2 separate regions of the Homo sapiens genome follow, and region 1 is linked to region 2. The links come from fine-mapping of genetic effects on plasma protein levels. A gene starts in region 2. The other region holds a variant in brackets. All regions are shown on one strand. Distances are from middle to middle.

Region 1 (11,655 bases), 13 kb before region 2:
GATACATTTTGTTAAAAGGATGCATGATAATATTTCTTCATCTTTTACGATGTTTGTGTACATACTTTACTTGATACATTCAGTAAGTGGATGATAAAGTTGGATACACGGGGGTGATTGGAAGGAAATAGATGATGAAGAAATGAAAACAATTCATTGGATTGACCATTTAATTGGGGTTTATAAATCTAACCATGACAATATTTCACAATTATGGAACAAAGAAGATGGCCATCCTCTCAACAAAATTATGAGTGTCAAAGTTTTCAAAAGTATTGGGTTTCACAGATTCAAAGAGAAGAGTGAGAAGTCATGATAAGCTAAAACCTACTAAAGATGTAGTTGAAATCTGGAAGCAGTTTTTACAAGATGGATATGTTCTAGATTCAACATACAAGACAGGGCATGAGCAGTAAGTGGAAAGCAAAGGACATTGCCTAGTCTTTTTTTTTTTTTTTTTTTTTTTTAACAGAGACAGGGTCTTGCTATGTTGCCTGGGCTGGTCTTGAACTCCTGGGATCAAGCAATCCTTCCACCTTGTCCTCCCAAAGTGCTGGGATTACAGATGTGAGTCATTGTATTCAGTCCATTCTTGGTATATATACTTTCTTTTTTGAGACAGAGTTTTGCTCTTGTTGCCTAGGCTACAGTGCAGTGGCGCGATCTTGACTCACTGCAACCTCCGCCTCCCGGGTTCAAGCAATTCTCCTGCCTCAGCCTCCCAAGTAGCTGGGATTACAGGTGCCCACCACCACACCCGGCTAATTTTTATTTTTAGTAGAGATGGGGTTTCACTGTGTTGGCCAGGCTGGTCTCAAACTCCTGACCTCAGATGATCCACCTGCCTTGGCCTCCCAAAGTGCTGGGATTATAGGTGTGAGCCACCACTCCTGGCCTCTTTCTTTTTTTTCTTTTTCTTTCTTTCTTTTTTTCTTTCTTTTTCTTTCTCTTTCTTTTCTCTTTTCTTTTTTTTCTTTCCTCTTCTCTTTTCTTCCCTCCCTCCCTCCCTTCCTTCCTTACTTCCTTCCCTCCTTCCTTCCTTCTTTCCTTCTTTCTTTCCTTTCTTTCTTTTTGACAGAATTTCACTCTTGTCACCCAGGGTGGAATGCAATGGCACAATCTCGGCTCACCACAAACTGCCTCCCGGGTTCAAGCGATTCTCCTGCCTCAGCCTCCCAAGTAGCTGGGATTATAGGCGCCCGCCACCACACCCGGCTAATTTTTGTATTTTTAGTAGAGGCAGGGTTTCACCACGTTGGCCAGGCTGGTCTCTAACTCCTGACCTCAGATGATCCGCCCGCCTCAGCCTCCCAAAGTCCTGGGATTACAGGCGTGAGCCACTGCACCCAGCCACCTCTTTCTTTTTTTTAAGACAGCGTTTCATTCTGTCACCCAGGCTGGAGTGCAGTGGCTCGATCTCAGCTGAGAACCTGTGCCTCTTCAGCTCAAGTGATCCTCTCATCTCAGCCCCCCAAGTATCTGGGACTACAGGAATGCACCATCATGCCCAGCTATTTTTTTTGTTTTGTTTTGTTTTGTTTTATTTGTAGAGATGGGGTTTTGCCATGTTGCCCAGGCTGGCCTCGAACTCCTGACCTCAAGGGATCCACCCACCTCGGCCTCCAAAGTGCTGGGATACAGGTGTGAGCCACCGTGCCCAGCCCTTTCTTGGTATATATACTTTCAAAACAGGAAAATTTGGGATTGAAATTTGGGTTTCCTACACTTACATTCTTATTATAATTTCTAATAAGGTTGTTTGTTATGATCCCTTTATTCTTCTGTAAATTATTATGAGGCTACTTAAAATATAAATAAAATTAAAAGGGTCCTTTGGACCCGAGGTAAATTATTATATAATTCTTTTTTCCAGTATACTAAAGGTTAACCCAGTATTGTTTGTAATAGCAAAAGACTGGAAACTTCTCAAAGGTCCATCAATAGGGCACTGGTTAAATAAATAAATATTGCTACCTTCTAGCAATGGAATATTATTTTGCTATAAAAACTGATTAGGAAAATATACATGTACTACTATGGAATAATTTCCAAAATATAAAGCGAAAGAAACAGGGTTCAGAACAGGATGTAAAACATGCAATCGTTTGTGTTATAAAAAAGGAGAAAAAGTATGATTTTGCTTGAATATGCATAAACTATTTCTGATAACATTGACTCTTTTCTGTAGAGGGTATCTGGGCGGCTAGCCACAGGCATGACAAAGAAATGTTTCAGCAAAAATCCCTTTTACTTACTGACATAGACTGACATAGACTAACATAGACTGGCATAGACTGACATGGACTGACATAGACTAACATAGACTGACATAGACTGACAGACTGGCGTAGACTGACGTAGACTGACATGGACTGACGTAGACTGACATGGACTGATGTAGACTGACGTAGACTGACGTGGACTGACGTAGACTGTTGTAGACTGACATGGACTGATGTAGACTGAAATGCACTGACATAGACTGACATAGACTGATGTAGATTGACGTGGACTGACATAGACTGACGTGGACTGACGTAGACTGACATAGACTGACATGGACTGACATAGACTGATGCAGACTGACGTAGACTGAAAGGAGAACTTAGAAAAGGACACGCTCAGCGTCGGGCACACCTCAGTCAAGGAGGCTCTGCTGACCACACTGTCCCTGTCTCAGTGACTTCCTACAACAAAGGTGATTTCTCACTGATGTTCCAGCTCCCTTGAGGGTCCACTGGGCGCTCTGCTCCACCCATTCTGGGACCCATGCTGACACCACAGCTGCCATCTTGAGAGACACTGGTTGCCATGGCCACTCTGAGAATCTTAGACATGTAATGAAATACATAATTTCATATTTTATATATTTTAATTGAAATATCTGTATATACAATATATATCTTGTATATCTATTTTATCTATTTTTTTTTTGAGACAGGGTCTTACTCTGTCCCCCAGGCTCAAGTGCAGTGGCATGATCATGGTTCACTGTAGCCTCAACTTCCCAGGCTTAAGCGAGTTCCCCATCTCAGCCTCCTGAGTAGCTATGACTACAGACATGTGCCACCACATACTGCTAGTTTTTTGTACTTTGTTTTATTTTTTGAGACAGAGTTTTGCTCTTGTCGCCCAGACTGGAGTGCAATGGCCGATCTCGGCTCACTGTAACCTCTGTCTCCTGGGTTCAAGCGATTCTCCTGCCTCAGCCTCCCGAGTAGCTGGGATTACAGATGCCTGCCACCACACCTAGCTAATGTTTGTATTTTTAGTACAGACAGGATTTCACCATGTTGGCCAGGCTGGTCTCGAACTCCTGACCTCAGGTGATCCAGCCACCTGGGCCTCCCAAAGTGCGGGATTACAGACATAAGCCACCGTGCCCGGCCTAAGGTAAAATTTACATGCAATGAAATGAACAAATTTGGGACAAATGCATATACCCATACACCTATGTAACCCAAACTTCTATCAAGATATAAAACATTGCTGTCACCGTGGAAGGTTCCCCTGTGCCCTTTCCCATCAATCCCCACCCCACACCATCCACAGAAGCAATCACTGTCTTGATTTCTTCACCACAGATCAGTGTAGCCTGTTTTAGAACTTCATATAAATGGAACTGTACATACGTATTCTTCTTTGTTAAGGCTTCTTTCATTTAGTACATTTTTGAGATTCATAACTTTTGTTGTGCACATTAGTAATTCATTCCTTTTTATTGTTAATATCCAATTTTGAGCATATGGTACAGTTTGTTTATCCATTCTCCTGTTAATAGGTCCTTGTGATGTTTACAGTTTGGGATTATTATGAAAAAAAGCTGCAATAGCCATTCTCATAAGTGTTTTCAGGAACGCTTGCTTTCATATTTATTTATTTATGTATTTCTTGCATCAAAGTCTCGATCTTTCACCAGGCTGGAGTGCAGTGGCACGACCTCAGCTCACTGCAAGCTCCGCCTCCTGGGTTCAAGTGATTCACCTGCCGCAGCCTCTCGAGTAGCTGGGACTACAGGCGTGTGCCACATGCCCAGCTAATTTTTGTATTTTTAGTAGCGACAGGGTTTCACCATGTTGGCCAGGATGGTCTGGATCTATTGACCTCGTGATCCACCTCCCTCAGCCTCCCAAAGTGCTGAGATTAGAGGCGTGAGCCACAGCGCCTGGCCTCATTTCTATTAAGTGTGGAGTTCTCTAGGAGTGGAATTGTGGGTTTAGAAGGCAGGTGTATGTTCAGTTTTTGTAAGAAATTGTTAGAACTTTTCCTAAAGTGTTGGTATCATATTACATACCAACCCACAGTATGTAAGAGTTCCAGTGGCCCCACTTCCTCACCATCTATTTGGTGTTGTCAAGTTTCAAATTTCAGCTGTTCTGGTGGGTGTGTAGTGGTATTTCACTACGGCTCTTTTGTAAACTTTTGCTTTATATATTTTGAGAGTATTTCATCGGTGCATTCAGTGATAGAACTGTTATTTCTTTTTTTTTTTTTTTGAGACAGAGTCTTGCTCTGTCGCCCTGGCCGGAGTGCAGTGGTGCGATCTCAGCTTACTGCAACCTCTGCTTCCTGGGGTTCAAGCAATTCTCCTGCCTCAGCCTACTGAGTAGCTGGGATTACAGGCACTCACCTCCACGCCTGGCTAATTTTTGTATTTTTTAGTAGTGGCCAGGCTGGTCTCGAACTCCTGACCTCAGGTGACCCACCCGCCTTGGCCTCCCAAAGTGCTTAGATTACAGGCGTGAGCCACCGTGCCCAGTCAGAACTTTTATTTCTGATGTGTTGAATTGTTCATCACATTGTGCTGATCCTCTTTATTCCTAATGACTTTTCTTGGTTTGTCAACAAAATAAACAGAGAGAGGCTCTCTCAAAGAAAAAGGTATCTGCGAACAGGGCATTGCAATGGGAATATGCATGTCATAGTGAGCTATGTGTGTACTTTAGGAAGGTAAAGGGAGAGAATAGCTTTTAAAGGAAAAGTGAGGAGGATTACATAATTGTTTTGAGATAATCAGCCTTGGCCATGAAGGTCAATAACAAGGCCGACGCCGGTCCAAGGTTGGACAGGCAGTTGCTGGGTAGATGTCCTTGTAGAAGTATTATTTGTGGAAGGTTGTGACGGCCTTTGTGCAGGTTGTGGTTTTTGCAGTCTTTTGTGATCGTTGACAGTCGTGATAGGACAAACAAGCATGAGAATGCTCTCTTCACAGCCTCACCTGGCTCTATTTCTCAGGGTTTTTTTTTGTTTGGTGTTTGCCTTTTAAAATACAAATGACTCCATTCTCATTCTGACAGCCTTCACGTTTCCGCCTCTGGTCAGCATCTCTCTCTGAAAGCATCGCTGGTCAGTCATCCTGTGGCTGGGTCTTGATTGTCCCTTGATACCAGGGTGGATCTGTCCTGGCTGCCAGTCTTGTCCCACACTGCAGGGAGTGATTGGGGACTAGGAGCCAGTGTCAAAACCTTCTAGCCACCTGTGAACAACGAGGGAGGTTCGAAGGGAGTGGCTGTCAGCTAAGTCTACTTAGAGTCCATTATTGAGTTCAATTTTGTCTGTTCCATAGTTTTTTTGCAATCATTTCAAAGCGCCAGGCCAGCATTATTCTGTTAGGAGTTGTACTTCTGTAAAATTTCTTTTTTTGAGACAGGGTCTTGCTCTGACACCCAGGCTGGACTGCGGTGGTACGATCATAGCTCTCTGCAACCTTGAACTCTTGGGCTCAAGGGATCCTCCTACCTTAGCCTCTTGAGTAGCTGGGACTACAGGTGCAGGCCACTGTGCCTGGCTAAATTTTTCAGTTTTTTTTGTAGAGACAGGGTATCACTTTGTTGCCCAGGCTGGTCTCAAACTCCTGGTCTCAAGTGATCCTCCTACCTCAGCCTCCCAAAGTGTTGGGATTACAGGCGTGAGCCACTGTGCCCGACCAGAATATCTTTTTTATCCTGTGAGAGAATGTCAGGAGTTTGGATTGGTGTTTTAGATGGTGGCAACTGCCCTAGTGGCTTTTAATTAGACATCCTGAGCCCACTATTTAAAACGTGGAAGGTGTTTAGAAAAAAACCCAGGGAAACGAGTGAAACCAAATCACAGGACACCAAGAGATGAGTGTTCACAAAATTTTAACCCAGGCATGCAGATCAAATTACACGCTCAGACCAAAAGTGAATTCACCAGAAATGACATGCCTCACAGATAGAATGTGAATTCAATAGAAACCAGAATACTCAAGCTAGAGACCTCTGTCTTTATACCAGAAAGGACTTACCAGAAAAGTCAGTCTTTTATCATCTCAGGAGGGATGTAAGGTTCTTTATTAAGGTGGCCTTATAACCAAACCTGATCTTGAATATCAAAAAGCCTCTACCAAAAAAAAAAAAAAAAGAAAAGAAAAAAAAATAGGCCAGGCACAGTGGCTCACGCCTGTAATCCCACCACTTTGGGAGGCCAAGGCGGGCAGATCACGAGGTCAGGAGATCGAGACCATCCTGGCTAACATGGTGAAACCCCGTGTCTACTAAAAATACAAAAAATTAGCCGG[A/G]TGTGGCAGCGTGCGCCTGTCGTCCCAGCTACTCTGGAGGCTGAGGCAGGAGAACGGGGTGAATCCAGGAGACGGAGCTTGCAGTGAGCCGGGATTGCGCCACTGCACTCCAGCCTGGGCTACAGAGCAAGACTCCGTCTCAAAAAAAAAAAAAAGGAAAAAAAGAAAAAAGAAAAGAAAAACAAAGCCTCCACCAAAAACAGGGAGGGCTGGCCTGAGAGAAGACTCACCAGGGACAAAAATTTGAGCCATGGAAGCCTACAGCGCAAAGGGCTCATGCATACTGGCCAAAAAAGAGTATTTTTTTCTGATAGTCATCTTTCTTTAGGTCCCATTTCTGACCCCATTTATGTCAATTAAATGAGAGAGACGAGCTCTCTAAAAGAAAGATATGTATTCAGGAATAGGGCATTGCAATGGGAATACACGTCATTGTGAGCTGTGTGTGTACTTTAGGGAGGTAAAGGGAGAGAATTTTTTTTTTTTTTTTGAGATGGAGTCTCACTCTGTCGCCCAGGCTGGAGCACAGTAGCACGATCTCGGCTCACTGCAACATCCACCTCCCAGGTTCAAGCGATTCTCCTGCCTCAGCCGAGTAGCTGGGATTACAGGCATGCACCACCCCACCTGGCTAAGTTTTTGTATTTTTAGTAGAGATGAGGTTTCGCCACATTGGTCAGGCTGGTCTCAAACTCCCAACCTCAGGTGATCCACCCTCCTCGGCCTCCCAAAGTGCTGTTATTACAGGCGTGAGCCACCACGCGTGGCCGAGAATGGTTTTTAAAGGATAAATGAAGATTACATAACTGTTTTGAGATTACCACCTGTGGCTACAAAGATCCATAACAAGGGCGATGCAAGTCCACAGCTGGACAGGCTGTTGCTGGGTAGATGTCCTTGAAGTATTTTTTGCATAAGGCTGTGATGCTTTTTGTGCAAGGCTGTGGTTTTTGCAATCTTTTGTGATAATTTCGTTATTGGGCATACCAGCATGAGACCCTTCACCATCGCAAGACTGCAAACCCTACTCTATTTGTTCGGGTTGTTTTTTTGTTTCTTGAACACAAGTGACTCCGCTTTGATTGACAACTTTCACACTTTATTAAAATCTACTTTTTTCTGAGATTCAAAGAGCTACATTTTTGGTTAGTGTATGTCTACTATACCTTTTTTCATCCTTTCAACATCTTTTGTCACATTTTAGGTGATGCTCTTGTAAACAGTGTATTGCTAGACCTAAAAATCCAAGCTTACAACTTGTCCTTTACCTGATACATTTATTCCATTTACTTTCATTTGGATTTTTAAAAATGTTAACTTAATACGTCTCTTTCAGATGTCCCTGCTTTTTAGTTAATTGTGTTTTCTACTCTCCTAAAGACTTGATTTTTATTTTTTAGTTAACTGACCGTTTTTAAAGAGGTTTTAGGCTCATAGCAAAATTGGGTGGAATTTCCCCTACTGCCCCAGCCAGGCATTGCTTCTGACTGCAGCATTAGGCTTCCAGTGGGATTGAGTGCTGCACATAAGGGTCTCCACCCCCAGCAGATATGGAAAGGCAATCCCCTAGTTTTACAGTAAGGCCTGGGACAGAATCCAAATTTGATCCCAACACCCAAGTGAATCCTCCTCCTCTTAAAAAGAAATAATTGACTGCATAACCGAACTGCAGGGTCAACTCAGATCCTACCATTCACCTGGAGGTCCTGACATTGCACCTCCCAGTCTAGGTCCCAAGAAAAGAACTCTGTAGCTTCTATTCTCATATCCCAGCACACACAAGTCCTTAAAATTTCTGGCCATAAAAACCACAGAAATTTGATTCCCAGAAAAAAACTGTTTGGCTAGACCAGACAGGTGGACATAAACACCCTGAGCTCCCAACCTATTAACAAAGGCTCACAGGGTCACTCTGGTGCACAAACCTACAATGAGACTACCTGCAAGTCATTTGCTGTCACCCCACTTATGGAATGTCACTATGAATCAAGATCTGTACTGGGGACAGAGATGACCAAAGTGACTCCCTGTCCCCTTGGGGTCACACAGCACATGCAACGAAAGTGCAACACTGTTTCTGGTACTAAGACTGCTCTGGCTTTGTAGTAGTCAGGGAGGCTGAAATTTGAACCATCAAAAAGATGATGCAGGAACAAGGTCAACTTTGCATTTGCTGGTTACTCCGGAATACTGGTAGGTCAAGCTGTAGCAATTAAGAAAATAGCTGGTTAGATAAGGATTGTCTGCAGACTTGTCAAATAAATTTAAAATACATGAAGGGTTATTTTGTTAGATAAGTGACCTTGGTACAACAGTACCTATGCCTCAGGACCACGATGAGGACTGACTGAGCTAACAAAATGCAAAAGGTTCAAACTCACTTATCTGCTTTTTGCAGATGGCCAGCTTTCACTTCTGCCATCTCCAGGCCAAAGGCATAAAGTCAGTGCTTGGTACACTGGAACAAACAGCTTGGGGCTCAATTTTGATACCCCTCCCTTCTCAAGCGGGAAGCGGTGGATTAGAGACCTCCTTGCCCATCTCTAAACTTTAGGACCCACACTAAAAATTTTTAAGTCAATTTCAGAATGCACTTGTTTAGAAAGCAAACCTCCCCATTCCCTCATTCTTAACTAGAGATATATACAATTATTCACAGTTACATAGCTGTATGTATGTTCCCTATTAAGCACCTGCCAAGATTTCAAGTAATAAAACTGAGGCAGATGCTCAGTTCACAGACAAGACTAGCAAATAAAGCCAGTGACCCAATGAAATGAACAACTTTTGTGAGTGGGGCTGGCAAGTGTAACTGCAGGATACATCCAACACAAATCCAAAGCAACGGCTACAAAACAGGGCAGATTCCAATGCTTTGATCTCATTATAAAATGAAAACTTGTTAACTTTAATATTAAAGCAAAGACAAAATACAATTTTATCATTATTTTAATCAAGTAACTTAGCTGTTTAAACAAATCCTTAAGACAGTTCAATAGAGCAAAGTGAAGAATTACTCTATTAGGATAACCTGTGAACAAAGTTCAGATTATGTGAATTTGTATTCCATTCGAAGTTTGGCACCAGACTGAACACTGGTTTAAGCCAAATTTTTTAGTGTTCTAGAAGCCCTGAACATGTTTTCCCTCAGATTAAAAGTAGAACCTTTATAATAGAACCTCATTAGCTTGACACTGAGTATGCTGAGTGCAACTTAGCTTAGGTCACCAGTATCTCCTACAGAATTCCAGTTAATGAAAGCAGATCAGCCTTGCGGCAAAGAATTTGAAACCTAGGCAACATACAAGTTTGAAGAAAAAAAAATCCTCTTTGGTGTGACAAAGCACATTCCCTCCAGGTATATGGCTCCTGCTCCACTTGCACCCGAATCTTGATCAAAGGCAGCTGGAGACCAATTCTTGTCTCTCCAATAAGATTGCTAGGTTTCAATTCCTTAAAATATCAAGCCAACCAAGTTTTATTACATCAAATGTTTCTATCATTTCAATGTGAAAATTTTTTTACGCCTATTTGTTATTAAGGTCTCATTATCTGTGAAATAATCACAAAAAAACAGAGGTGAATGGTATAAGCCACTGCTCCAAAATTAACCCTATCGATTCTCGATTCCCACTGTGCACTTTGTGAAAAGGGTAACTGCCAAGAGGTTTAACCTTGAAGATGATTACTCAAACAGTCAGAACCCATAATATGAGTTTAGATCAGGCAAGGAGTTCATGAGGAAGTTATCAACTCTTGTGTGTCCAAATCTAAAGCCCTGCATGGGCTCTGTCAGGTCCTTGTCACCTGCACTCAGGTGGCCATCAGACTTCTTGGGTGCCTGGCTATATTCAATGTGAAGTAAAAAATATCCCAAGTCTTACACCAAAATAGAGGCTCTGACTTAGAAGTATGCTTTTAGCTTTCTTTTTAAATAAGACATTCTGGAAGAAAAAAAAAAGAAAAAGGAAAGAAAATCAAGTTTGAAACACAGTTAACACTTATTTTGGCAAGAAAGCAACCAAAATCTAAAAAGCATAAACTATGTGTCCAAATGTAAAAGGCATTACAGAACAAACTGCAAGAGGGGAAAATTAAAGCCACACTGAACGAAAAAATACAGTATGTCTAACATTTTGGAATTGTAATTTAAACCCTAAGGGCAAAAGCTGAAAAATCATGCTTAGGTTGCTAGTTAAGTGCACCCTTCCTTGTTTCTCCCAAATAAAATCAGTTTATTAATTGCACCCCAAAGCAAGTTCTCTCAGTACAAAGTAACTACTACGTACACACAAAATGCTTGTTAATGTAATAATTTCCCTGGCTCATCCAACGTGCAATGCACACGACTTCAAAGACAATTTGGGGCAAGTGTACATGAAATGAGAAAACAGCTCTCCAAGTTTCAAATCCTGCTCTTACATTATTTATAGGACACTGAGGTCATATTTACTTCTTGGTTAAGATGTTACACTGTCATTTCATTATCAGTCTACCTCACAATGTACATTACCAGATGCCAATTTGAGGAACTACAGAGATAAAACTTTAGTACTTTCTTAATGGGCTGAATAAATTAATTACAATTAAGTTTGCTTTACATCCTGTTGAGGACCTCTTTGCAGCCCCAGGACCTAACAATATCTGGCAGGCTCCAAGAATGCTCATCAGGTGAAATGATGGCAGAACATTTAAAGTAAGGAGCCAGTTACTTCAGCTTAAGTCATTCAGAGCCAAACATCTGAAGAACGACCAAAATCAAACCTTTATTTTTATAACTGTATAAATGTGATCCAAATGTGTCCACCACTAGTTTTTCAAAAAGAAACATGCTATAAATAAGCAAACTACATCTGCTCACTGATGTGTATGGACTCCCTAGATGTCTCATTGGGCTTAATAACAGACCACTCACAGTAATAGATTTTTAGTGTAAAGTGTAGCATGATGTTAAGCCATTTTAGCTTTTGCACATACATGTTGCACTTCTGGCTGATAATGGAGGAAAATTTGCAGCATTATACTGTTAAGCTAGGTTGCATCCATCCCTTTAAATGGCATCAATATCGATGTCGTCATCCTTGTTGTCTGACTTTACAGTCTCAACTTTCGGT
Region 2 (11,655 bases):
GAGGCTTGTAAGGTGGGTCAATTTCCCCACTTTCAAGCATGACAGGACAAGCAAAAGTGGTTAATATGACCATCTCGAAAGCCACACAACTGTAATCTCATTTATGAATCCAGAGCACTTTGCTTACTCGTAGGAAATGGCGCCTGTATTTCTTAATCTGTTCTCTAATCTTCTCATTAAAAAGAACTTCAGTTAGAACAAGAGGGCCCATGGCTTTTACATCCAGTCTTTCTGCTTCAGCAACGATTTCTTTGTCAGATGAATCAATAACACCCTCTTCTTTCTTTTTCTGCAAAGAAAAGGAAAACAATTCAGTGCAATGGAGGCACACTTTGCCAGGCTCAAGACACCAGCCAGTCCCTGCTCTGATGAACATATTTTTCCTGCCTAATTTGGCAGTTGTGACACATAGTGCCTGGAATCACGCGCAAAAAATATTTAAATGAACAAGAGTTCTAAAAAGTCGTGCATTAGAGTAATCCTAATTACACTGCTAAAGTATCATATATCTAAAGGCACAAACAAGGCTGGGTTGAAGCTGATTTACAGACCAAGCAAATGTTTTACCTTAACAAAATCAAAGAGGATATTGACCCTCTCCTCAATTGTTCTTTCCAAATCATCACTGAGTGTCAGAACTTTTGCATGGTCACTGATTTCATCCATTCGACGCCTTTGAGCTTCCTCAGTTGTATCTTCTCCCCAGTCATCATCCTCCTCTTCTTCCTGTTTATGAAAACAGAGCTACTTGATCAAAGGCCTTAAAAACAACAACAAAAAGGTTCAGATTTTGCCAAGTTAATGGCATCAAGTCCATCTCCATCCAAAATTGGGTTCACCTTAATTCAAACAACAAACAGTACTTGGAATCCACAATATTAGTGTATTACACACTGAAGGCTAGTTTCAACATTTCCACCCACCTCAACCAAATGCCATATACTTTACACAACTTTAGTGCCCACTAGGCCATCAACCCTGCACTCACCATTGTATGTGGAGGAGGATTAATTTCATTTGGTGGTGGTGGTGGTGGTGGTGTCTCACTGCTGGATACGGAGCCATTTTCCTTGTCTTTGCCCTTTCTGTTTTTCTTTTCTTTTTCTTTCTTTCCTGTACCACTGTCACTATTCTCTACAGAAAAAAAGGGAAATAAAAATTTAACCCCATAACTTACATTACCTCATTGCCCATCATTAACGTTTAAAACCCTGCCCTTATTTTCCTATGGATCCCCTCAGAAAAACCACACAGCACACACAATGCTACCTAAGAGGCTTCACAGATCAAATTCATCATGTATTTCATACGTAAGAATGTTAGTCTAAGAATGGAGTGACACAAAATATTAGGGGTATTGTAACTGCTAAGAAAGAGTAAGATGAAGTGATGATGCCTCCACTAGGGAGAGGTGGCCCTAAGGATCCCTGTCATCCCTCATGAACAAAGTCATTAACTCAACCCAGCTTTAGCCAACAGGTGGAACACTGTTTAAGTCTATATAACGGCTTGTCTCATGGGAGAGAGAACACCGGAATAGGTTAGACTTTCTTGCTATAGCAAGCTCAAATTGTGTCAGACAGTTTTGATCATCTGCCACAGAGTGTTGCTTGCAATATTCAAGTTTAATGAAGGGGGCCCTCTTTACCAAACAATGCCAGTAAAAGAAACTTTGCTGGGTTTCCAGCAGAATTTTAGTCATTACTTCATCTACCCTCAGATAATGTCTTAATTGATATGGCACAGTTTAATTGGCAGCCTATTTTTCACCTTTAATGGTAATTAACAATACACTTTTGAAAGATGTCTTAGATTTGATAAAATATAGTACAAGGACTAAAAGGTTCCTTATATTGTTTTTTTGAGACAGAGTCGCTGTTGCCCAAGCTGGAGTGCAGTGGCACGATCTCAGCTCAGTGCAACCTCTGCCTCCAAGGTTCAAGCGACGCTCATGCCTCAGCTACCGGAGTAGCTGGGATTACAGGAGCACACCACCATGCTAAGCTAGTTTTTGTGTTTTTAGTAGACGGGTTTCACTATGTTGGCCAGGCTGGTCTTGAACTCCTGGCCTCAAGTGATGTGCCCGCCCTGGCCTCCCAAAATGCGGGGAATACAAGCATGAGCCACCGTGCCCAGTCTCCCTTACATTCCTATTACAAAAAAACCTTCTATTTTGTTCCCAACAGTTAGTAACTTATCTTAGGATCTTAGGAGTTCATCATGGAAGACTCACCAGGTGGGTTTTTGAGAATGAATGTGCAGAGTTTATGATGTGTGTCAAGCATGCCTCGATAGCCACAGGCTTTACAAGAATTACCTATTGTTTGCTTCTTTGGATTGACATGCTGCCAAAAAAATAACAAATGTTATCCATAATATAACATGAAAATATCTAATCAGAGGACATCTAAACCACAGACAGCTTCACATGCAAAGAAAACTTTTTTCACACAGTGACCTACTTTAAAAAAAAGAATGGAAATATCTCGAAAACTGGAGTTTTGTGTTTGATTTAAAATTACATTTGCTCTGCCTTCTCAGGAAGGTGACTTAGCGGTATCACAGAAGCAGGTATATGGCTTTTTCTTTCGACAACCACAAAAGCACTTACCAAATCTGTTTCAGGATTCTCACATTCAGGACAGAGAACAAATTTTTTAATGAATCCATCCAACATGTCTTGCAGCTTATTCGCCTCATGAGATCCATTGACAATGTAACGGTCATTCTTAACATCAAACTGGGTCTGTGCTCCCAGCTCACAACCAAAATATTTGGTGGGATCTATTTGAATGAAAAAGGAGTTTGGATCGTTACAGTTAACTAGATCTCTGGCTACTCACTCACATTTGTACGAACACCACTTTTTTTTTTTTTTTGAGACAAGAGTCTCACTCTGTCACCCAGGCTGGAGTGCAACGGCGTGGTCTCAGCTCACTGCAACCTCCGTTTCCGGGGTTCAAGCGATTCTCCCCCTTCAGCCTCCCAAGTAGCTGGGACTACAAGCGCATGCCACCACGCCTGGCTAATTTTTGTATTAGTAGTAGACTCAGGATTTCACTATGTTGGCTAGGCTGGTCTAGAACTCCTGACCTCGCGATCCGCTTGCCTCAGCCTTCCAAAGTGCTGGGGGTTACAGGTGTGAGCCAACGCGCCCAGCCATCCACTCTTTAAATGCGTTCCCCTGGTAGTTTTGTAAACTCATGGCAACCAATAAACCACGGTTCCTCACTTAACTTGTAAGGTAATTAGCTAGCATACAATTAGAACAAGTTTTGCAGCTCAAAGACTTTGAAGACTCTATCCATAATATGCCCTGTGGACTTTTCCAAGCTTTACTTACACGTTGGAGGCCGATTAAGCGCCTTTGCAACGTCAACCATGTTGACTATAACTGTCTTGATTCCATTGCCTTTGCCCTCAACCTAAAGGAAATAAGAATTTTAGTTGTGCAGTTTCCCCTGACAAATGCAAACTTCAAAATTCTACAAAAAGAGCTATCAACTAAATTGAAGAGCAGTTTATTACCTTGGCAATCAGACGGGGCATCTTGTAGCGATAGAACTGGTCTGACACGCTGCGGTTGACATTGACAGACATTTTGGCTTATTAGTGGCTTTATCAATAAGATGAAGAGATCTTTGATTGCAACTTTTTGGTATCTTCTGTCTGGAGAAGAAGGGATGACATAAACGACTGCAAGAGTTCTCGGTCTCTGACATGAAAAAATTTTCGCCACTGAGGCTGTAAGCTTCTTGCTTGTATGCTATGTTTCCCCAATACAGGTACCAATGGCTGCGCAACAGCTCTGAAAGAAAAAGGGAAAGAACACACAAAAATCCCCCCAGGTTTAACATCATCGCTGGATGGAAACGCCTCCTTTTTACATCCTAGTTATGCTTCTGCTTAACTCCACCTTAAAAAGCATCTGAGATCACATGCAAACAGCCATTCTCATGTAACACAGTACAATCTGCGGGAACATAAAAAGGCCTCCATTTCGACTAAGCTGTGACTGGTAGGGAAATGCCTGACAAGAAAACACAAGCTGTGCTGCCTCAGCCGCCGTGAGATTCCATCAGACCGAGGGCAATCAGCAGGTTTGCCTCTGCGGCCATCCTGGAAGTGCTGAAGAACGAACCCGAGCCCTCTCCGCCGCCCACCCCGCCTGGATAAGCAAACTTCTCAGGCACACCCCCGTTCGTCTTCATTTTTAAGGGCAACCTAGGGAACTGTTCTCTACAACTAATCGTTGCTTCGGCAACCATGGCTTACTTCAAAGCAGCACTTCCTTAAACGCAGCGCTCGCCCACAATTTGCCATTAAGCAAGAGAGCGCGAGCGAACGCCAGGCTCGCCCCGGCCTCCCTTTTCCTCGCTATTCAAATACTCGGTTAACCTTCGCCCTGGTCCCCATGGCTACCGCGCTCCGAGGCGTTTCCGCGGGGGCTGGCGAACCGGGCAGCTCCGCGAAGGAGGGGGGCGCGCGACCGGGGCGTCTGGCCCCATCCCCAGCGCGTCCCCCGAGAGCCGGCGGCCCCGGAGGGTGCACAGCCGGGAAGCGACACACGGCCGAGGGGTGCCGGGATCGGGCCGCCCCCGCCCCAGAGCGCGCGATGACTCACAAATGCAGCAGCTGAAGCCTGAGTCAGCCCGAGCGGCGGGCACGCGCGACGCGCTCCCGCCATGCCGGGGAGGGGGCGAGGCCGGGCCGGGGAGCGCGCGGGGAGGGGGCGGCCGGCGCCCGGGCCCGCGCCCGCCCGCCGTCCGCCCAAACTGCGCCACACGCCGCGGCGGGGTCACGCGGCGGCCGCCGCCATCTTGTGCGGCCGCCATCTCCTGGCCCGCCGCGCCCGCGACTCACCGTTTTCGTCAAATAAAGACATAAACCCAACGCTGCTCGCCCGGGACTGGGATGAAGTGAGGCGCGATATAAACCCGAGTCCGAGTCCGAGGAGGCGGAGGCGAAGCGCAGCGAGGAGCGGCCGGGCCAGGTGCCGCCGCCGAGCAGCGGGGAGGGGCTGTCCCAGCGACGTCCGCGGTCCACACCCGTCAGCGCCGGAGCTGGGCGACCTGGCGCGGAGAGACGGCGCCGTGAGCCGTGGGCGGTCGGGGAGTGCACCTTCCCCGCCAGCCAGCGGCCCGAGGGGTCGAGGGGGCGGGAAGCACCGGGCAGGGGGCCGCCCCTTCACCGGACTCACCTCTGGAATGTTCTCGCTCTGACTGAACAACGCCGCCGCCGCGCTCAAGCTACCCTCGGCCCCAGCGTCCGCCCCCCGCGTCAGGCCTCACTGCCCATTGGCTGGAGGCCTGCCACAGCTCGCTCGTCATTGGTTCGCTTGCGACGTCAATCGCATCTTTCCGCGCCCCTTCTGCTTCCTGAGGCTCAACTCGCGGCCTCGGCCCGCCTCCAGCCCCGGTCTCGCTTCCTTCCTCTCCCCTCCCCCCGCCTTTCCCAGAGGTCTTCGCGGCGCAGCCCTTGGGTCTCGCGAGACCCGGAGTGGCCCTGGTGGCGGGGCCGGGGTACCGGGGGCCGTTCTTTGTCGGTTTGGGCCTTGAGGGGGAGATGGTGGTTGGTCCCCTCCCTCGCCGGGTCTGGGACAGGCCGCGGCGTCATGGCGACTCCCGGGACGCAGGAGCCATCGTCCTCGAAACTGCTTTCGAGGCCGTGTTTTTGCGGCTGCCACCTTCGGGGAGAGGAACCCGACCGCGTTCTCCCCGCAGCGGGCGCTCATCTCCCTTTCCCGTTCTCCCGGGACGCCCGACTCCGGGCCTCGAGGAATGAGTTGTTTTTCCACCTTAAGCCCCAGGCCTGGGTCTTTCATCCCAGGGACGTCTTCTGTTTCGGACTCGGGGTGGATTGGCCGCTGGCGGAACGAGTCCGTGACTCGCCAGTGACCGCCCAGGGCGGTCGCGAGGCCGCGCCGCCTCGGTGTCGGCCCGCAACCCAGCCTGCGCGCTTAGCTCAGCGCGTCGCCTCCCGTTTTCGGAAGAGGAGGCCCTTAATTGGTTTGGAATCCTGGGGCCTCCTGAAGGCGCTTCGTGGTGGGTTCCCACCTTCTGGTGAAGGCCTCCCTGCTCTCCCAGGGTTGAAAAGCGCTATCCTTCGTGCTTCTCTTGTCACCTTTCTCCTAGTGGGCATCACGTCGAGTCCACCCCCTCTAGTTTATGACTTGTGAATTCTTTGATAAGCAAATCGTAGCCCAGAGCAGGCATTTATAATGAGATTCCAATGTATTCCGTTGAAAATTACTATTATTTAGGCCGGTCGCGGTGGCTCACGTCTGTAATCCCAGCACTTTGGGAGGCTGAGGTGGGCGGATCACCTGAGGTCGGGAATTTGAGACCAGCCTGGCCAATATGGTGGAACCCTGTCTCTACTAAAAATACAAAAAATTAGCTGGGCGTGGTGGCTCGCTTGTAATCCCAGCTACTCGGGAGGCTGAGGCAGGAGAATCCTTGAACCCGGGAGGCACAGGTTACAGTGAGCCGAGATCACACCACTGCACTCCAGCCTGGACAACAGAGCGAGACTGTCTCCAAAAAAAAAAAAAAAGAAAATTTTTATTATTTAGAGAGAGGCTCTCATATTTTAGTTCTGTTGAAACTCTCCCATTCTTTCTGAAACTTGGATTTTTTTTGTGAAAACTTGAGTCTTAAAAACACATCCATAGTTCACCCTGAAGTTTGAAGACCTCACTTGACTGATGGAGCGAGAGCCCCGCTAACCTGCACTCTGGTCTCTAAGGTGCAGTCATCGAGAAGTCCTGAGCGGCCGTGCAGGTTTCCCGATCTGGAAAAGAGAAATGTTGCTGAGGACAGGATGAGGTAGATAAGGGGCTGCCCTTTGTTTTGGACCAGTTGCATTTGCACTGAGGTTAGAATTGGCAGCTATGTTGATTTTTATATCAAAATCCAAGATCGTGCTTCCATAACTAAAAGCTTTATAAACAACTTAAAAATTGGCAGTGTTGGTAGGAAGAAATAAAGGCACAATCCAGAATTGAGAGGTGATTTGTGTCCTTTAGGGCAGGGACTTTTATAATCCCGCAGTGTGTACCTTGGTGTATAGTTGTTAAGCCAAGTGCACAGTGCCTTGTGAGTACCAGGGTTCCCATCAGACAAACTAGAAAAGGGGATCCCAGACATGCTGCTGCTGTTTCACTGTGGAGCATGACTTAGCAGTATTGAAACAGATCTGACTTTTTGCTTGGCAGCACAAAAATGATGTTATTTTAGAAACTCTGTTGGAAAGTATAGGCATGAAACTAGTCTGAGGTGAGAGGCCTGCCTTTTCAGAAAAGTTTTAATGAAACACGAAGTAATTAGCTTTTTTGTATGTTTAGTGGCACAATTTTTAATTTCGTTGAAGTTTGTAATAATTTTAACTGCTTTTTAATATGTGTACCACTCATTTGTATGCAACCATGGACAACTTAAAAAAATACTTTTGTGTTCTTTTTCTCCCTTTTATTTTTAGTTAATACATAATAACACATTTGTGGGATACAAAGTGATATTTCAGTACATGTATACAACGTGTAATGATCAAAGCACAGTAATCAGCATATCCATCACCTCAGATGTTTATCATTTCTTTGTGTTGGGAACATTCAGAATTCTCTCTTCTAGCTTTTTGAAAATATACAATAGATTGTTGTTAAGTATATTTACCTTGAAATACTACAGAGCACTAGAACTTATTGAGCTGCAATTTTGTATCAACCTCTCCCTCTCCTCTCCTCCCACTAGCCTTCCCAGCTTCTAATAAACCACAATTCAAGTCTCTACTTCCATGAACTCGAATTTTTTTTTAGCTCCCACATATGAATGAGAATATGTGGTATTTATCTTTCTGTGCCTGACTTATTTCACTTAATATGATACTGTCCTCCAGTCTCAGCCATGTTGCTTCAGATAAAAGGATTTCATTATTTTTTTATGACTGAATAGTGTTCCAGTATATGTAAAACTTTTTTTTTTTGAGACGGAGTCTCACTGTATCACCCAGGCTGGAGTGCAAGTGGTCTGATCTCAGTTCACTGCAACCTCCGGCTCCCAGGTTCAGGCGATTCTCCTGCCTCAGCCTCCCAAGTGGCTGGGACAACAGGTGCGTGCCATCAAGCCCGGCTAATTTTTTTTTTTTTTTTTTAGTAGAGACAGGGTTTCACTGTATTGGACAGGCTGGTCTGTCTTGAACTCCTGTGTGATCCACCTGCCTTGGCCTCCCAAAGTCCTGGGAGTACAGGCGTGAGCCACCACGCCCAGCCTATAACACATTTTCTTTATCCTTTTTTTTTTTTTTTAAATAATAAGATGGCGCGGGAGGGGTGGGGGGGGGGCTCACTATGTTGCCTAGGCTGGTCTCGAACTCCTGGCCTCAAGCAGTCCTCCCACCTCGGCATCCTGAAGTGCTGGGATTACAGGCATGAGCCACTGCAACCAGCCTGTCCATTCATTTGTTGGTGGACGCTTAAGTTGATTCCATATCTTTTGCTATTGTGACTGGCGCTGCAATAAACATGGGGGTGCAGATATCTCTTTGATAATATTGATTTGATTTCCTTTGGATAAATACCTAGTAGTGGGATTGCTGGATCATATGGAAGATCTATTTTTAGTTTTTTGAGAAACCTCCATGCTGTTTTCCCTAATGGCTGTACTAATTTACCTTCCCACCCACAGTGCATCAGAGTTCCCTTTTCTCTGCACCCTTGCCAGCATTTGCTATTTTTTGTCTTTGTGGTTTTGATTTGCGTTTCCCTGTTGATTAGTGACATTGAGCATTTTTTCATACATGTGTTGGCCACTTGTATGTCTTTCTTGGAGAAATATCTATTGAGATCGTTTGTCTATTTAAAAATCAGATTTATTTATTTTTTGTCACTGAGTTGTTTGAGTTCCTTGTTTATTCTGGATATTGGCACCTAAAAATTACTCTTAATCATACCATTTGTTAAATGCTTATCATATCCTAGGAGTTTTCTAAGTTCTTGGAATACATTATCTTATTTCCCAGGCCCTATGAGGAATTCGTATTTCCATTTTACAAATGAGCGAACCAAGGCTTAGTGGAAAAAAATTAAGCAACTTACCCAAATCATGTACCTAGTAAGTGGCAGAGCTAGGATTTAAAGACAGCTCTGTCTGATCCCAAAGCCTGTTCCCTTAAAAATTATGTGGCATGGCCTCTCCAGATAAATACAAAAACAAACAAAACTAGGCATTTTACATATGTAATCCCATTCTTTAATAATCATGTAAGGAGATGTTGTTATACCCATTTTACAGGTGAGGAAAGAGACTCAGGAAGGTTAAGCAATTTTCCCCAAAGTCGCCTCCCTAATAAATGATGGACAGCGTTTGAACTCCAGCTTGTGTGACGCCAAGCTCATTGCACAATTCCACTTCCCGTTTCTGGATCTCCACCTCATTTGGCTGCATTATTTTCCCCAGTCAGGTGCTCACAGTCCGTGCACTAATGGACACTTGGTGCTTGTCAAAACCTTGCTGAATGAGTGCATGAATTGCACACCTCAGTGCATGCCCTGATGACAGGAATAGCTGCTGGAAAGGTAGATTGGTAAACTGGCCTTCTGGTTGTTTACACATTGGCTGTGACTCTGTTGAATGTGAATGAGTGTCCCCTCCCTCCCACCCCCCACCAAGATCAACTCTGCATGGACTGAGAGCCTTGTGTTTCTGAGCTGTGAGCTCTCAAATGGACTCAGATATTGTACACTGTGAGGGGCAGTGGTCCTCCTCTGTGACACCCACCTCTCAACTTTTTTTTTTTCTTTTTTTTTTGAGATGGAGTCTCGCTCCGTTGCCAGGCTGGAATGCAATGGCACGATCTCAGCTCTTGCAACCTCTGCCTCCTGGGTTCAAGTGATTCGCCTGCCTCAGCCTCCTCAGTAGCTGGGATTACAGGCACCTGCTACCATGCCCGGCTAGTTTTGTATTTTTAGTAAGAGACGGGGTTTCTCCATGTTGGTCATGCTGGTCTCGAACTCCCAGCCTCAGGTGATCCGCCCATCTCGGCCTCCCAAAGTGCTGGGATTACAGGTGTGAGCCACCGTGCCCAACCTCTCAACTTTTAAAGCTGCACACTGTTAACTGAAGTTCTTGTCCCCCCTACTTCAGGACAAGCTACAGGGTATATGCATAATTTTTCTTCTAGCACCAGCCAGTCACAGGGGTGTTCATAGAGCAGACATTTGAAGCTGCTGGAAGGGAACTGAAGGTTATCTGGTGAGTACAGAGGCATCGGCTGACGTGAGGGCTGGTGTCCTAAACCATGGTAATCTAGTGCATCCCTATCAATACATAATTCTGTGCTAGGCAGTGAGGGTGCAGGCCCGCCTACATCACAGACCCTGCCCAGGAGGTCACATGTAAACAAGTAGAGGCAAATATCTGCTTGCTGGACACCCCACTGAAGCTTGCCCTTCGTGAAATCTCTGATGCTCTGAACAGCATGTCTCCCTGCCTTCGTGACCTGCCCATCCCATGGCTAGGCTGCACCTACGCCACACCACTGGCATTCATGTCACTTGATTGCAGTTGCCTGTTTCCTTCTCTGACTTCCTTACTGGGCCAAGCAACTGGAGGGCAGGGGACTCATGCTTGAGAAGAAAGGATTCTGGACTTTGGCTGAGGAACAGGCCTTTAGTTCCAAAAGGGACAGAGGCAGGAAGCAGAGGTGTTTGAGGAAAGATAGGGGTCCAGGTGAGGGATCACTGGAGACTGACACAAAGTCTTCCTCCTCCGAAGTGTGGAGCTGTGATCCCACCCAGCAGCCATCCTGCATTGTCCCATTCCTGGAAAAAGAAAAAAACACAAAATGGCATTGATTCTGCCTGCGCAGCGTCCTACGTGTAGCAGATGACAGAGAAATGTGGATGGATCAGAGCAGGCCCTACAATATTGGATTGGTGTTGTCTTGGTCACATTGAAGACACACACAGCACCCCAGTGACAAATTCTCAGGGGTTGCAGGAGCTGCTGATCCCAGGACTGTCCTGTGCCTTAAAACTGGGGGACGCCCATGATGTTGGAACCCAAATACCCTTCTTCCCGTCAGCATAGTCTCAGCAGCTTTCTTTTGAGATATTCGAGCTGCCCTAATTTAGATAGTCTGTGGATAAGAAGAACAAAATCTCTGCCCCAATGGGTGTGTTGGAGAAGTGGTCCCCGGGTCTAATGGCGACGTGATGGGAGTGGCATTAGACTGATCATGGCTGTTAGAATTAGGAAGGTGCCAATGGCCTTGCCGTGCTGACAAAGCCTCGTCACCCATGCTCTCTCACTGTCCTCCTCACACCTTGGGAGGTGGCAAGTATACATTTTATTCCTTCATTTTATGGACGAGGAAGCCGAGACTCAGAGAGATGATTTGCCTCCAGTTGGGGGGTCAGGTGTCCTGATTCCCAGCTTCAGAGCTCTTCCCCCTGACTAGGGACTAATAGTCCTGTGTGGTGCATCTGGGTCCCAGGGATTTGCCTCTCTTCCCTCAGCTGGATTTCCTTTACTCCAGTGCTTTTGAAAGTTTCACATGAGGGGAGGCAGGATCCAAGTCATAACCCTGATAGCTAACACTATCCCAGAAGATCCACTCAGGTGTGCTGTCTTCAGACCTGTGAGGATGCGTTTTCCT

Alleles and levels. Alleles are on the strand shown, and positions count from the first base shown. The strength of an association depends on the size of the effect and on how common the allele is.
With allele A in place of G in region 1, the plasma level of the protein whose gene starts at base 5,224 in region 2 is higher (weak association).

The links. PIP is the chance, under the fine-mapping model, that this variant and not a neighbour inherited with it causes the effect. The UK Biobank Pharma Proteomics Project read protein levels with antibody pairs (Olink). The fine-mapping took linkage between variants from a reference panel, not from the people measured, so its PIPs are less certain.
Region 1: its variant is fine-mapped to the plasma level of the EIF5 protein (UK Biobank, PIP above 0.99).

Annotation. Positions count from the first base shown.
Region 1 is chr14:103,340,989-103,352,643 of GRCh38, reverse strand. EIF5 (eukaryotic translation initiation factor 5) reads right to left here. Exons shown (of 12, transcript NM_001969.5): 12 at 7,619-11,655. The coding sequence ends at 11,592. Among named protein-coding and RNA genes, the nearest start is that of SNORA28, 9.0 kb to the right of the region's middle. The variant A/G (reference allele first, on the strand shown) is at 6,542.
Region 2 is chr14:103,327,806-103,339,460 of GRCh38, reverse strand. EIF5 (eukaryotic translation initiation factor 5) reads right to left here and starts at 5,224. Exons shown (of 12, transcript NM_001969.5): 1 at 5,201-5,224; 2 at 4,864-5,072; 3 at 3,529-3,808; 4 at 3,344-3,425; 5 at 2,612-2,784; 6 at 2,234-2,345; 7 at 989-1,134; 8 at 568-726; 9 at 128-289. The coding sequence starts at 3,600. EIF5-DT (EIF5 divergent transcript) reads left to right here and starts at 4,801. Exons shown (of 1, transcript NR_158216.2): 1 at 4,801-7,789. SNORA28 (small nucleolar RNA, H/ACA box 28) reads right to left here and starts at 1,612; the gene lies at 1,487-1,612. RefSeq lists silencers at 4,369-4,608, 4,719-4,768, 4,909-5,328 and an enhancer at 5,649-5,768.